Regions from separate parts of the Homo sapiens genome. Here region 1 is linked to region 2. Evidence: fine-mapped expression QTL. A gene starts in region 2. The other region holds a variant in brackets. All regions are shown on one strand. Distances are between the middles of the regions.

What was found. PIP is the estimated chance that this variant, and not a neighbour inherited with it, causes the effect.
Region 1: its variant is the best candidate, but not a certain one, in a credible set for the expression of CD2AP in iPS cells (HipSci, PIP 0.58).

What each region holds. Positions count from the first base shown.
Region 1 is chr6:47,438,769-47,447,104 of GRCh38, reverse strand. No RefSeq gene overlaps it. Among named protein-coding and RNA genes, the nearest start is that of CD2AP, 35 kb to the left of the region's middle. RefSeq lists a silencer at 1-112 and an enhancer at 2,357-3,090. The variant A/G (reference allele first, on the strand shown) is at 5,013.
Region 2 is chr6:47,472,812-47,481,131 of GRCh38, reverse strand. CD2AP (CD2 associated protein) reads right to left here and starts at 3,343. Exons shown (of 18, transcript NM_012120.3): 1 at 2,884-3,343. The coding sequence starts at 2,887. CD2AP-DT (CD2AP divergent transcript) reads left to right here and starts at 3,060. Exons shown (of 1, transcript NR_187257.1): 1 at 3,060-3,889. RefSeq lists an enhancer at 2,059-2,785 and a silencer at 3,072-3,581.

The sequences.
Region 1 (8,336 bases), 34 kb after region 2:
GAAATTATGTGTCAAGAATTGTTTCATTCAACCCTTTGTTCAACACTATTTTGAGCAAGTATAGTATACAAGTCACTGTGCCAAGATTCTGTTCAAAGTGAGTTTCTGGGTTCTTAGAGGAAATAAAAATATGTGCCTGAATAAATGTAATGCAATATGGAAAGCAAAATTAACATGAGAATTAATGTGCTTCCGGGAGGAAATACTGCTGCTGAAGAAGAAATGTGACATTTGAGCTGGGCTTTGGAAAATAGAGTGATTTGGATGTGCTGAAATGTGACAGGGAGAGCATCCCAGGCAGAAAGAACAGCATGCTTGTGGGAAAATGAAATGCATGTCTAGGAAATACCAAATAGTTTAGTGCAGCTCTAGCATATAGTATGAGAAAGTTAATGAGGAATATGTTGGATAAATGGATTGACCTAGATGAGGGAGGGTCAGAAATGCCAGGCTAATGAATTCTGTGATGTTCTCTAGGCAATGGGGAGTCACAATTGATATCTCAAAAGTAGGGCAATGATCATGGCCCCAGATAGCTTTTTTTGTGTGTAAAGAACATACTGTGTAGGGCAGAGAATAAGGTGGGAGAATGTTGAAGGCTTTTATGGTTCCAAGAGAGAGCTAACGACAGTCTGGGTTATAGTACTGTCCAGCCTTCTTCTATTCCTCTTTTTTTAAATTTAAATTAATTTTTTTTTAGAGACAGGTTTCTCTCTGTCACCCAGGCTGAAGTGCAATGGTGTGATCATGGCTTACTGCAGCCTCCACCTCATAGGCTCAAGTGATCCTCCCACCTCAGCCTCCCAAGTAGATGGGACTACAAGCGTGCATCAAAACACCTGGCTAACGTTTAAATTTTTTGTAGAGATGGGGGTCTCCCTTTGTTGCCCAGACTGGTCTCAAACATCTGGGCTTATGTGATCCTCCTGCCCCAGCCTCCCAAAGTGTAGTGATTACATGTGTGAGGCCCCTGTACCTGGCCTTCTATTCCTTTTTAAGGCCACTCAATCCTTATATACACCACCCAACTGCTGGCCTACCAAATGGGGTCTTGACCTACCCCACTTTGCCTTTTCTGAACCTCCTCTGCCTTCATCTGCATTCAATAATCAAGATTCTTGGCTCTCTGGCTTCTGCCTTTAAATGGGCCCATGTATCTGACTTTCATCCTTACTTTTCTGGTATTTGGTCACCTGTTTTCTCCCATGCATTCTGCTTTGATTCACTTTCCGATCCTTGAATTATTCCATCATCTCAGGTAGGCTGATGATGCCTCAGCCTCTGCCTTAGTCCTGTAGAACACACTTCCACATGTAGCAGTCAGGATTCATGGTTGCAAGCAGAAACTATTCTATAATAACTAATTTAAGCAGAAAAATAAGGTGAATTTAATAAGGATATTTGGTACCTCATTGAATCTGCAAGGGGTCTGGAGAGTAAGGTCCAGAGGCTCTGCGGCCAGCATCCATGCCCATGTCACACTCTGAGGGCTGCTCAAGGCGAGAGGGTGCTACAGCTCCTGCATGGTACAGACACCACAGCCTCCACCAATAACTCTGGAGACCCAACACCAGAAATTTCACCACCGGTGCCTGGCAGAGCTGGTGCCTCTCTTGTCATTCTTATGAAATGGTAGATGACAAGGGCTCCTGCTTCCTAGGGTTGTTCAGTTCTGAAGTGAAAACTTTATGATCATGTCTGATTGGCAAAGCCTAAGAGGATGCAGAGATGAATTGATATGGTTTGGCTCTGTCCCCACCCAAATCTCACTTTGAATTGTTGCTCCAACAATTCCCATGTGTCATGGGAGGAACTCAATGGGAAGTAATTGAATCATGGGGGTAGGTCTTTCCCATGCTGTTCTCATGATAGTGAGTAAGTCTCATGAGATCTGATGGTTTTATAAGGGCAAGTTTCCCTGCACAAACTCTTTTCTTGCCTGCCGCCATGTAAGATGGTCCCTTGCTCTTCCGCCATGATTGTGAGGCCTCCCCAGCCATGTGGAACTGTGAGTCAATTACACCTTTTTCCTTTATAAATTATCCAGTCTCAGGTATGTCTTTATGAGCAGCATGAAAACGGACTAATATATGGATGTATCACAAAGCTAATGAATCTTAAGCCTCAGGGCCCTGTACTTATGCAGACCCTTTCCAAGGCCCTGGGAGAGCCCTAGGAATAAATGTCTGTCCTATGTTTTTGTAAAATTTGCAGTAGAAATATTGTACCTGCAATTCTGACTTCTGTCAACCTCACTAAATTTACACAATATTATCAATCATCAGTTGTGAAGCTTAAAGACACTTTTCTAAACTGTCAATCAAAAAATCAATTGACCAGATAGGACAAAGGAGACTAAAGTACTTTTTTTCTTTTTATAAAAAAAAAATTGGTCTCCCTCTCCCTTTCCCTCTCCCTCTCCCTCTCCCCCCACTTTCCACGGTCTCCCTCTGATGCCGCTCCCTCATCTCGCACTTTCCACGGTCTCCCTCTGATGCCGAGTCGAGGCTGGACTGTACTGCCGCCATCTGGGCTCACTGCAACCTCCCTGCCTGATTCTCCTGCCTCAGCCTGCCCAGTGCCTGGGATTGCAGGCGCGTGCCGCCACGCCTGACCGGTTTTTGTATTTTTTGGTGGAGACGCGGTTTTGCCGTGTTGGCCAGGCTGGTCTCCAGCTCCTGACCGCGAGTGATCTGCCCGCCTGGGCCTCCCGAGGTGCCAGGATTGCAGACGGAGTCTCGCTCACTCAGTGCTCAATGTTGCCCAGGCCGCCCATCGTCTGAGATGTGGGGAGCTCCTCTGCCCCGCCGCCCTGTCTGGGATGTGAGAAGCGCCTCTGCCCGGCCGCGACCCCGTCTGGGATCTGAGGAGTGTCTCTGCCCGACCGCCACCCCATCTGGGAGGTGAGGAGCGTCTCTGCCCGGCCGCCCCGTCTGAGAAGTGAGGAGCCCCTCCGCCTGGCAGCCGCCCCATCTGGGAAGTGAGGAGCGTCTTGCCGGGCAGCCGCCCCGTCCGGGAGGTGGAGGGCAGCACCCCCCCCCCAGCCAGCCGCCCGTCCGGGAGGGAGGTGGGGGGCAACCCCTGCCCGGCCAGCCACCCAGTCCGGGAGGGAGGTGGGGGGCAGCCCCCGCCCGGCCGCTGCCCCGTCCAGGAGGTGGGGGGCGCCTCTGCCTGGCCATCCCGTCTGGGAAGTGAGGAGCCCCTCTGCCCGGCCGCCACCCTGTCTGGGAGGTGTACCCAACAGCTCATTGAGAAAGGGCCATGATGACGATGACGGTTTTGTCGAATAGAAAAGGGGGAAATGTGGGGAAAAGAAAGAGAGATCAGATTGTTACTGTGTCTCTGTAGAAAGAAGTAGACATAGGAGACTCCATTTTGTTCTGTACTAAGAAAAATTCTGTCTTGGGATGCTGTTAATCTATAACCTTACCCCCAACCCTGTGCTCTCTGAAGCATGTGCTGTGTCCACTTAGGGTTAAATGGATTAAGGGCGGTGCAAGATGTGCTTTGTTAAACAGATGCTTGAAGGCAGCATGCTCATTAAGAGTCATCACCACTCCCTAATCTCAAGTACCCAGGGACACAAACACTGCGGAAGGCCGCAGGGTCCTCTGCCTAGGAAAACCAGAGACCCTTGTTCACATGTTTATCTGCTGACCTTCCCTCCACTGTTGTCCTATGACCCTGCCAAATCCCCCTCTCCGAGAAACACCCAAGAATGATCAATAAATACTAAAAAAAAAAAAAAAAAAAAAAATCACAGATCTGGATGTGGTGGCTCATGCCTGTAATCCGAACACTTCAGGAGGCCAAAGTGTGAGGATCACTTGTGGCCAGCAGTTCAAGACCGGCCTGAGCAAGCTAGTGAGATCCCTTCTCTACAAAAATATTTTAATATGAAAAATTATGAAATCATTGTCATGTGAATTAATAATCAAAGAGTTAAAATAATGTAGTTAAAATAATGAAGAAAAATATTAAAGAGGTACATTAGGCAAATTATTGATTTAAAAATTACATTGTTTTTCTGGATTTGTGGTGTTCATGGTACTGGTTATCTCCTAAAATTTGTAGTTTTGATTTTTTTTTCTCATTCAAATTGTGAAGTTAATTTTTAAACCTAATTTTAAATTTGTAATTTTGTTGCTTTGTAAAAAGAAGGCCCCAAAATTGTATTAGGGTCAAACCCCTACAAAACTGGAATCTGCCCCTGGCTGGATCGCTATATCCTAACTAAGATAGGGTAAGAGAGCCAGTCCTAGCTTCTGCCTTGAGAAAGGGCTCATCATATGCGGAATTCTCCAAACATAGGAAGGGTGTTTAAACATGCTAGGTGGCCTCAGACATGACAAATATCCCTTATACTATGCTTGAGTGTATGTTTGGTATTTAGGAATAGTACCTCTCTTGAGAAAATATACTTGGAAAGATTTTGGAAAGGGAATGGAGAGGCAGGAACACATGACAGAAATATTGCGTACACATGGTGAGAAATTGGATTGTGCATGAGACGTGATGACCCTGAGGGTTAGCATAGATAATTATCAGGATGGTGCTGGGTGCGGTGGCTCATGACTATAATCCTGGCACTTTGAGAGGCCAAGGCGGGGGATCTCTTGAGGCCAGGAGTTTGAGACCATCCTGGCCAAGATGGTGAAACCCCATCTCTGCTAAAAATACAAAAATTAGTAGGCCTGGTGGTCCATGTTTGTAATCCCAGCTACTCGCGAGGCTGAGGCAGGAGGATCACTTGAACCCAGGAGGCGGAGGTTGCAGTGAGTCAAGATTGTGCCATTGTACTCCAACCTGGGCAACAGAGTGAGACTCCATCTCAGAAAAAAAAAAAAAAAAGGCTGGGCACAGTGGCTCACACTTGTAATCCTGGCACTTTGGGAGGCTGAAGCCGGTGGACCATGAGGTCAGGAGTTCGAGGCCAGTCTGGCCAACATGGTGAACCCCGCGCCCCCCCGCCCACCCGTCTCTATTAAAAATACAAAAATTAGCTGGGCATG[A/G]TGGCAGGTGCTTGTAATCCCAACTACTCGGGAGGCTGAGTCATGGGAATCACATGAACCCTGGAGGCGGAGGTTGCAGTGAGCTGAGATCACACCACTGCACTCTAGCCTGGGCGATAGAGTGAGACTCGGTCTCAAAAAAAAAAAAAAAAAAGTATCAGGATGGCAATGCCAATAACCAAGATAGGCATCTCAAAGCTGATACAGATTCAGGGAGGAATTGGGGAGACAGAGAGTTGGATTTGAAACATTATGGGATTCAAATTGTATAAGTCTTTGGAAGGACCAAAGTTAGCAGAACTATTAGTATTAATTCACTAACTCTAAAAAAAAAAAAAAATCACCATTTCATAGTGCTGGATGAAGGGTAGTACAAACTACACTTATAAAATGTAACTTAGCAGTCAAAAGGGGTTAAATAAAATAACAGATCAATTTAGAAAAAAAATCAACAAATGTAATTGAAAGCCAGGTGTAATTAAAAGGCATATTAGGCAAAATATTACTCATGATTAAATACCAGAGATCCTGCTTTGATTTAACCAAATTTTAACCTTTTTTACCCTAAAAAAAATAGCACAACTAGAAAGTACTACCAAAACAAAAACCCAACCCAATATAGGCTGGGTGCGGTGGTTCACGCCTGTAATCCCAGCACTTTGTGGGCCCGAGGAGGGCAGATCACCTGAGGTCAGGAGTTTGAGACCAGCCTGGCCAACATGGTGAAAGCCTGTCTCAACTAAAAATACAAAAAATTAGCCGGGCATGGTGGCATGTGCCTGTAATCTCAGCTACTCAGGAGGCTGAGGCAGGAGAATCACTGGAACCTGGGAGGCAGAGGTTGCAGTGAGCTGAGATTGCGCCACTGCACTCCAGCCGGGACTACAGAGGGAGACTCCATCTCAAAACAAAAAACAAAAGAAAAAACAATATAATAGTATAATATTCTCATTTTACATATGGATAAACTAAGCCTTAGAGAGTAGTTAAATGACCTGCCTGTTTGTGGACAGTGGTCTGGACTCCAGTGCTCTTAGCCAGAACATTTTATTGTCTTTCAGCATTCAATTATGCTGCCTTCACTATTTTGCTGGAACACACCTATGTAGGAGAGCATTATGCAAATATATCGGCTTTGTTCCACCACAACCATGGTGAGCTAAATTTAACTTTGATAGCCTCACATCCTTATTAAGAAACAATGACCCATTCAGAGTTGCACAGAAACACGTGACCAATAAAATTGTATTCCTCGAGTGTCCAGCTTTTGGCAACTCTGCTGTTTAGGGTGTAGAGCTTGTATAAAGGAGGAACATGGCTTAATGTGACTTTGTTTGAATAACAGGAAGACAGAAGTTATTTGTATTCTAGTGAATTATATTTAGTCTTTTTTTTCCTTTCCAATTTCAGGTGGGGGACTTTAACTGGGCTCCAGGGAAAATGAGACCAGGAAGCTACGGGCATCCTTCCTGGAGCTTACCTACAGGTGTATGGTTGTACATCCCTATCCAAAGTAACCGTACCCTAATTTTCAGCCCTTTTTATTTCCTACATTTTATTCATCACAGTTACTTTTCTTATGTGTTTGCCTATTCTCTTTCTTTCTCCTAGAACATACACATTTTTTTTCTTTTCTTTTCTTTTTTTTTTTTTTTTTTTTTGAGACAGAGTCTCACTCTGTTGCCCAGGCTGGAGTGCAGTGGTGCAATCTTGGTTCACTGCAACCTCCACATCCCAGGTTCAAGCAATTCTTGTGCCTCAGCCTCCAGAGTAGCTGGGACTACTGGCATGTGCCAACACGCCCGGCTAATTTTTGTACTTTTAGTAGAGCCGGGTTTTCACCATGTTAGCCAGGCTGGTCTCGAACTCCTGACCTCAGGTGATCTGCCCGCCTCGGCCTCCCAAAGTGCTGGGGTCACAGGCATGAGCCACCACGCCCTGCCATAGAATATACACTTTTAACAGGGATAACATTACCCCTGAGGGAGTGAAAGTTGATTCTTGGGAGCAAAAAGCCATTGATATTTCTGTGTATAATGCATGGATATAGACACAGTACATAAATATATACACGATATCTGTGGTATCAAAATTCCATGGTGGAGCAGTTAGGAAAGGAGTGTCTAAAAATGTTTCTTAGGGGGCAATAATGAAAAAATGGTAGAGAAACAATATTCTGGGAACTAAATTTCAGAAGGGCAGGGCCTACAGAATCCTTGCAGATTGCAGTCCCAGTGTTTGCCAATGTCCCGCACAGAGTTAGGGCATAGTAAAGGGTATAATGAATATTTTGAAGAATCAACTGTTCATCCACCTTTTTGACAACAAATCACATTTCACATAGTGTTGTCATTATTTTAAAGAAGGGAAAAGCGGAGAGTTGGGTAAAGGAAGCTATGAAGTGGAAATGTGTTTCTTTTTAAGGAAACTAGGCAGGTAGGGCAGGAATACCTATATATAAAAAATTAAGTTTTCAACTCAGAAGTGAAGTTGCTTCTCTATTTTTCCAGAAGCCTACTCTGTCACAATTGACTAGTGCTGACTTTTAGATATCTTTGTGCAAAATGCCTAATTTAGAAACTAGCATACAGCATTCAAATCAGAACTTTTCTATTATTCTGAAAATAGAATGTTTTGCCTAAAGTCCTTCGTAGGTATTATTACATCTTCCACATGAGGCCAGACCCAAATGTGATGAGCTCAAAGCCCTGACTGCCAAGAAGCGGGTGTGACATCTGGGAGAAGAGAAGTGCAATGGTTCCAGACATTTATTTCATAGTATCCATTCTTGGCCAGAGAGGGCCGGCCCCATGCCTGTCTCCTAATAGACTAATATTGGGCTCCTTTTAGGTCAGCGTTGGGACAGCTGACGCTAATTGAGACAGTAAGCATTTCTTGTGGTCTATTTCTATTTCCCCAGCACAAGACTTCTTCTTGCAGCTTCCTCTTATCATGCAAAGTCACAACATCTGAGAGTTTTTCAGAAACAAAAGAAATGCTACAGTTATGATCTGGTGTTAACTGACTTCTCCTGGACCCTGTACTTTAAGTGCCCATGGTCATACAGGAAAACTCCTTTTTGTTTTTTTGTCTTGTTTTGTATTTGAGACAGGGTCTCACTCTGCTGCCCAGGCTGTAGTGCAGTGGTGCAATCTCGGCTCGCTGCAACCCCCGCTTCCCGGGTTCAAGTGATGCTCCCACCTCAGCCTCCCATGTAGCTGGGACTACAGGTGTGTGCCACTGCACCTGGCTAGTTTTTGTATTTTTTGATAGAGAAGGGATTGCACAGTGTTGGCCAGGCTGGTCTCAAATTCCTGACCTCAA
Region 2 (8,320 bases):
CAAAATGCCGATCTGTATTTTTGGAATAAGAAAAATAAGCACTGCCTATCTGTCTCCCTAGAGCTCTTCCCAAATTCTTTCACACAGAATACCTCAAACTTCTCAATAGGCATTTTATCACATTTAACAAATGTAGACACTAAAAACATAAACTTCAAATAAGTCTACTAGTAGTCATCCCACTTAAGAGTTTTTCCTAAGCAACTAAAGCTCTTACCAATAATGGACTTTCGCACAGTACATCCAACATTGAAAAAAGTATCTATGTGGTTTCTGTAAGGTTATATCACATAAAATTCAATTTCTGCCTTAGTGCAAAATCATCTCATCCCTCTGGTCCTTTATTTAAAGAAAATATCCTACTTCTAACAAAGGTCAAAAATTGAGATTTTTTTTTTCCCAAGTTGGTACAAGAATTAGGGAAATCATTTGAAAATGAAAATCACCACCGCCAGCACTGGCAGTGTTCTAAGCACTTTACAAGTAGTAACTCATTCAATCCTCCTAACAACCTATGAGGTTGATATTTTATTCCATTTATAGATTGAGAAACTGAAGCACAGAGAAGTAATGTGCTCAGTCACACAGCCAGTAGGTAGAAGAGAATTTGACCTCAAGTAGTCTCTGTCCAGAGCCCATGCTTTTAACTCTCTAGCTGTACCACCTAAACTTAAGAACCACCATTTAATAGGCATCCAAATTATCTTACACACAAAAAAAATTTCAGATTTTTTCATTTTGTGACAAATTAGATAAAATATCATGTAAATATTTTAGGCTGCATCTAAAATCATAAGAAAAAAGGATGGCTGGTAAAACCAAATAAATGAGATTTATATTAAAGAGCAAACTCCCTTTAAGTGAACTTGGGAATTTTATTATTACATGACCAATAAACTTAAAGAATATATATATTGATATGGAAATGTTTCACAAACACTTTACAAAAACTTAACCACAAATGCCCTCAGTAACATACCTTCAAAACACATTCTAAGTAGTCGAGAGTATACCAACATTGATATCCAAGTCTATATGAAAACTCACCTAAACAGAACACAACAAATAAATCACAAAGAAAAAGCCTCTGGACAATCAAAATAGGTATTCCAATGTCCAAGTATTGGTACACATTTACTTTTCTCCAGAGACGACCTCACACACTAAGTAACGGCCTACTGATTTTTCCCCTATGCAGAATCACAAACCTGAATATGATTTCCACACTTCTAAAAAAAAATTAGAAAAGGAAAGATGATGGGGGACACTAATCAGTTACAAGCACATCCAAAAGCAAAGCAAAAAAAAAAAGTATTTAAATAATTTCAAAATGCGAACAAATATTATTTAGAATTTAGCTCAAAAGCCCTATATGCAAAACAAGACTGCATCCCCAGGTCATCCAAAGTAGTTTAATTTTATTCTGCATCCCATTTAAGACAGAAAAGAACTGTGTAATTAACTTTAGTATTATCTTAATCCAAAGCAGTTAAAGTGATTTTATAATTTCATACTTAAAAGAATATGCCCACAATTGCCCTGCAAGCTCAACTAATCAATTATAAAATAATTCATTTGAAAATTCCAAATAGCAAATGTTTTATTTCACTGTTTTTGAGCTCAAGAGCACTTTTGAGTATGAAAGTTACCTGAAAGGAGGGAGGTGGAGAAGGGAACATAAAATTAGAAAAGTCTAAGAAAACAGAGGATAGCTAGGCGAGTGTCTATAAACAATATGCTCAAAACATCCCCCACAAAGCAAAGTGTGGACAGAGGGTGCCACATCAGCAGTAGTCTGTATTCGTCCTGCTTCTAAATCATTTGTTAATTACATGAATTATTCATTTCGGTGATCGTTTGTTGATATGAAGCAGTACCAACTCTCAACTGCAAAAAGTGATAGGGTCCTCCTGATTTGCTCTACAAAAATCAAACTTGGGTTTACTCTTACAGAACACGTTCTGCCTTATAGAGACACAGGGTGTTTTGTTTTTTGTAAGCTATTCTTAAGTTGCTTTTAATTTTTAAAGGATTGAGGGAGTTAGTTTAATGCCTAGCCCACACCGAACTTTGTTATCAAAAGAAATTGTTACACCACTTAACAAAACTCCTTTTCAACCCGGACTGCCACACATTCTGCCTTCTCTAACTTCAAACAAAACTATAAAGCACATAGTAAATAACATATAAGGCCTTGTATTTTTCTCTCCTCCGGCAAGGAAGTCTAACTCCAAACAGGAAACTGCTCCTCAAAGGATCCAACACTGAAGTCCAAACCCAGTCCTCGGGAGCACACTGAATGCTTAGGTGCCAACACACTTGCCTAGGTAGAACCCGAGTAAAACAAATACTCAAGCTTTCCTGTCCTTGAGGCACCCCTTGCGAGTTTCAGCAGGAAAAAAAAAAAGTTTTTGAACAAATTTATCTCTCTCCTTAAACGTATTCAAAGCCTCGCAGAAAATAAAGAAGTTGAAAGTGCTACTTTATCAAGTTTTTCGATCGCCCTCCCCCATCCCACGAGGAGGGGGAGGGAAGCAAGGGGATGAGGAAGGGAAGGAAGGTCAGGTCTGATTTTAGCTGGGCAAGGGGTTAGCAGAGGTGGCCAGGCGCCCCCGCCCCCCATCCCGCACCTTTCTGGTGAACAGGAAAAGAGGCGGAGAAGGGAGAGCGAGGGAAAGCACCCGCGAGCTCTCCCACCAGTTTCTCCGTGAGAAGAGCAAGGTGGAAGGCAGGGCAAGAAGGGGCGGTGGGGAGAATGGAGAGGGTGGGGTGCTGCCGCTCAGGGGCTGACCGCAGTCGCCTCCCCAGAAGGCCGAGAAAGGGCACAGCCTCCCCGGGTCTGGAAGGTCCGGACGGGCGGCGGGAAGCGCCCGAGTCTCTTACCCATGCTGGGGGCTCCCGCGGGGAGAAGCCGACGTCCGCTCCTCCTCCTCCTCCTCCAGTGGTGGCTCGCGCGGCCGCTCCCGCGGCTGGAGGCGGGACCCGCGCTCCGCGCTAGCCCCTCCTGAGCTCAGGCGGGGCGAAGAGTCGCCTCCATCCGCCCGCGGCGCTCTCCTACCAGTCTCTTCAGCGCGGCCCTCGAGGCAGAGGCAAAGGCGGCGACAGCTCCTCACCCCTGGCCTCCCCAGGAGCCACGGCGGCGGGAGGGCCCTACCCCGCCCGCCCGACCGCGGTTTTCCCACCCTGGCCGCTCCCGCAGTGGGGAGGGACCCACCGGTTTGCCCAGACCCTCGGCTCCAACCCCGAGCGCCCGCCTAGCCTCGGAGCCCGCCCCTCGCCTCTTCCTTAGCACTCGCAGTTAGAAAAGGCGACACCGTAGACTAAGGTGGGGACCCAGACAGAGGCCGAGAAGGTGCGGGGAGCTGGGACCGGGAGGAGGCAAATCTCGCGAGAACGCCCTCGTTCTCCCCGCCCCACCCCGCCCCGTCGCGTTCGGGCTCTCTCCCGGTCCCCACGGCTGCTGCCAGGTGCGGTGACGTCACGGCCGGGGGTCGCGCGCCGACCGCGTCCAGGTGCAGCGAGCGGATGAGGAAGCGGTGCAGAGGAGCTTGGGCTCGCTCTCCCCCCGGAGGCTCGGAACAGCTTGGGCGGGCGTTTGGTCTGGTTTGTCGCCTCAGATGGATCAAAAGGTTTCTGCTGATAGGCAAAGTTGCCCCACTTTCCGCGGCGGCGACGCGGAGTTACTTTCTGCAGCGAAGCAGCCTCGAGGACCTTAAAGGGAAAAGGCGGACAGAAGGAGGGCGAGCGCACTTGATTTCGACCTTTAAGGGAGGCCCAGATGCTGCCAGGCCCCTCAGTTTACCTTGCGAAGTTACTTACGGATCAGCAGCATTTGGTCTTCGTCGGGTGAGGGAGAAACCTAGGCATCAAATAAATTCTGTTTCACAGATTCCTTTAGTCTCTTGTCAGCTGAATGCAACTTTATAATTTGCTTTTTTTCTTTTTAAAGTATAATTTGAGTTGTTACTTGATCGAGAGAAAAATAGGCATCATGATTTGAAATACTGCCAGGCATTTTTTCTAGCGTCAATGTGAAGGAGGGCATAGGATTACTATAGTCAGTCAAACATGAGCTTGGTAGTTACGAAGAAGTATAATTATTTCAGCAAGCTTTTTTTCCCCCTTCTGTTTAAGTAGACCCAATTCCAGGGCAGATGTGTGTGTGAGCGTTTGTTGAACGCCAACTATTGTGCCTAGTGCTTTTTCAAGAAATTTTGTAATTCTCAGTCATCCAGCACTGAAACTGACTTGCCCTTTGGATCCAGGCAGACATGGGTCCTTGAAACTCAGCACAGCCATTTACTTTTTGTGGGACCTTGGATAAATTAACCTGTCTGAACTTCAATTTCTTGAGTATGTTCAAACAAATCTTGCAATGCAGAGCACAGTGGCCCATAGTAGTAACCTTGGACGTATCCATTACCACTATTTCCTATAGGCCTGCTTTTGCCATCTTTTAATTCTTCTAATGCTTCTCAAAAGGTTACATGTGGTAATTTTATAACAAGAATGATCAAACTCACAAACAGCAGCCAAAAAGGATAAAAGAAAAAAGTTGAATATACTCACCTAAACAAGATTACATTGACATCATGGAACATGTGCCTTTTTTAGGTAACAAATATGTGTTCAGCATTATGTTCGTTGTCCCCTACCAAGCAAAAAAATAAAAAGCTAAAGTACAGCGCTAATCCTCAGAGATTTTGCATTCTTCTAGGGGGGTGAGATACGAACACAAAGTTAATTAACAGTATGAGGTAGTGAGGGTCAAATGCTTGAGAATTTAAAGGAAAATAAATTACTGTGGGCAAAGCAAGCTGTAAAGAGAAGGTATGAGTTGAACGAAAGCTTGGGGAAGGCAATAATTCAGTCTGGAGGAGTCCTAGAACTGAGGAATGGAAGTGGATATGCAAACAGAGTATTTCTGAGCCTTTAAGAAATGTGTGTGGCTCAAGCAGCCCATAAGGAAGGCCATTTACGATTTGGAAGAATGAGGCTGGTGATGGGCTAAGAAGGATTCATGAAAGGAGACAAAAATATAAGCTATTGGAAGCACATACATAGGTAGTAAATTCAAGGCCCAGAGCCCTTAAGTTTCTAGAGACTAAATTTCTAGGTCTCTAGAATCCTTAATATTTAAAGAAGAAAGGCCAATGAATAGAATGGAAAAGAAGTTAAGTAAAACAGAAGGGGGAATAAAGACTATCAGATTTGATAATAAGGGCATCTTTGAAAATATAATTTCAGAATATATATAATAGAATATATAATATATAACTACATATTCAGAATATATATATAATAGAAAATTCAGATTAAAGGTTTTATCAATTGAATGATAAGGAAGTGGAGGCCACAGATAAGGTAGATATTTTCTGAGAAGTCAGGTCACATGATCTGACAACAAGATAAAACATTTACAATCATTTATGTCCTAGAAATTCCAGGATCTTCACACTTGTAATCCCAGCAATTTGGGAGGCCAAGGGAGGAGGAGCACTTGAACCCAGGAGTTTGAGACCAGCCTGGGCAACATAGCAAGACTCCATCTCTACAAAAAAAAAAAAAAAAAAAATACAAAAATTAGCCCAGGTATGGTGGCACAGGCCTGCGGTCTCAACTACTTGGGAGGCGGAAGTGAGAGGATCACCTGAGTCCAGGGCCGTCGAGGCTGCAGTGAACTGTGATCCTGCCACTGCACTCCACCCAGCCTGGATGACAGAGTGAGACCCTGTCTCAAAAAAAAAAAAAAAAAAAATTCTAGCATCAGTTATTGCCATAATTAATGTACGTATTTTACAAGTTTAAAAGTTAAATTCACTTTGCAAATTCAGAGGCATTATCCATTGAGGTAATGATGAGATGACAAATCATAGAAATTGGAAGGATCAGGGAATAGAACCCCTAAGAATGGTTGAGAAAACTGAAGTAAATCTAAGAAGTAATCGCAATCCCAAATTTAATGTTGTTTTCCAAAGACAAAGCCAAAGGAAATTCTAACAGAAGAATGAAATCTAGCAATTTACTTTTAAACTTACAAAATGGTATGTAAAAATACCTTCTAAACTTTTGAATGCTATGCAAATATTAGTTATTAATTATTCCTTTAAGCTCTTTTCATCCTTTAAATCTTACCTTCTCAGCTATAAGAGGCCTTCAAGGTATGGCAGTATGTTTTATACGTTTTTATATGGCTACCACCGTCTGCAGCTCAAAACATTGCGTTCCCTGGCAATAATTATTAGTTGAATGAGAGAAAATATGGTGAGAAGATAATTTCTACTTACCACATATATTAAATTTAAATTCCTTTAATCTAAAAACAAATTATCTTTTACTTTTCCCTTTATTTTATTGTTACCTTTATACTGGATTAGGTTTGTTTCTGTCCATCTGTCCTTATTCTTCTTTGTATTCCAGTACAAATGGACTAACACCACTCTAATCATTCACTTTCTTTTTTTCTGCCAAGTACTAAACATGTTGATCTGATATCAAGGAGAGCACTACAGTTCTGTGTGAATGACACAATTTCAGACCAACGTAATTCATGCTAAACTGCCATGATTTCTTCCTGAAGTTTTCTTAGGAATTTATCTGAAGATATCTATATTTTAAAAAAGCATCTGCCTTCTTTCCTTTTGGTAAAAACTATTATAACCAAGAAGATTATGCTAAAGAAAAATAAGTGTTAACTAAATTATATTATTTTTAAAGCACTCATTTAGCTAAAATCTTGTGACTAATTATTTTTTCTTTATTCTCATTCAAAAGTACTAGGTTTCCTGGGAAGTTTTCTTACTGCTACCTTGTTTTGGCCTGGCTAATTTACTGTAAACTTAAGCCCAAATTACATCAATGTATAATCTGCATTTTAAAAATCATTCTTTAGAAAACAATTGTAGGAAATAATAACCTCAATCAGAATGCCTATACTGTGAGATCATTGAAGCTGAAAAATCCCCCTGCTCAAACTGGTGGCCCATTCAGCTTGCAACAAAATACTGTTCCTCGACTAGCAACTTGGGGGATGTCCTCAGGCCTATGACCACTCTAAGCACTTTTCATTATTGCATACTAAGAAAGAGTTAATTAAAAACATGATGACCCATCTAAATGAATCACCACTTGCCAACTGCAAGGACCTTTTTAATGGTGTTATTTGCACTTTATTCAGATGCTAGTGTCATAAAGCTGGCATTTGATAGGCAAGTCATAGGAGACTCATAGGCCTTTAAAGGGAATATCTTTCAAGAAGCATTACTCCTCCCAAATATTAAAGCTAGCTCCTTTTGAAGGGTCACATATTTTAAGTAATCTCAAATAACAAATACATTTGCATTTTCAAATATCAGGCAGTTAAATTATACACATGGTATTATGTAAATAATTTCCAGTCACAAGTACACATTTATTCAACTCAACAGATGTTTTTCTGATCACCCATTACAAATGAGCAGCTTCTGGATGATAAATATAGAGATAGAAATAAAGTCCTTGCCCTTAAAAGAGAAAGGATTGGGGAGTCTCTCGAGGGTACATTGGAATTCTCAGTAAGGACAAGGAAGGGTAGTCAGGTAGCCAGGACAATAGGCAGGTATACAATCCAAAGCCCAGGATGGGCGTGGTAGTTCACGCCTGTAATCCCAATACTTTGGGAGGCCAAGGCGGGCAGATCACCTGAGGTCAGGAGTTCAAGACCAGCCTGGTCAACATGGCGAAACCCTATCTCTACTAAAAATACAAAAATTAGCCAGGCATGGTGGTGGGTGCCTGTAATCCCAGCTACTTGGGAGGCTGAGGCAGGAGAATCACTTGAACCCGGGAAGCAGAGGTTGCAGTGAGCCAAGATCATGCCACTGCACTCCAGCCTGGGTGGCAGAGTAAGACTCCATCTCAAAAAAAAAAAAAAAAAAGGCTAGGATGTCTTTGAGGGGCCAGGCTCTGAGACCACACTCAAATATGGAGAGCACTGTGTGCCAGGGAAGTAATTTGACGTCTTGTTCTAGAAGTAAGAGGCAATTAATGAAGTATTTTAAGTAGGCAACTGATTTGCTTTTCCAGCTACATCCACGGTCATAAAAAAAATGCACACAAGTCACAAAAAATTAGGTACAAAAAAATTTGGTTAAATAAGCATTGATTAAGCACCCACTACCCTCAAATAATTAGTAAATATGTTTTTTTACTAATACAATAAATGTTTAAACTAATATAAGATACAAGGGATTTCATATGCTGGACACTGTGAAAGATTCATTGCAGCAAACACAAACTCTGCCTTCAAGGAATGTGATTTCCAGCTAAGAAGGCAAAGATA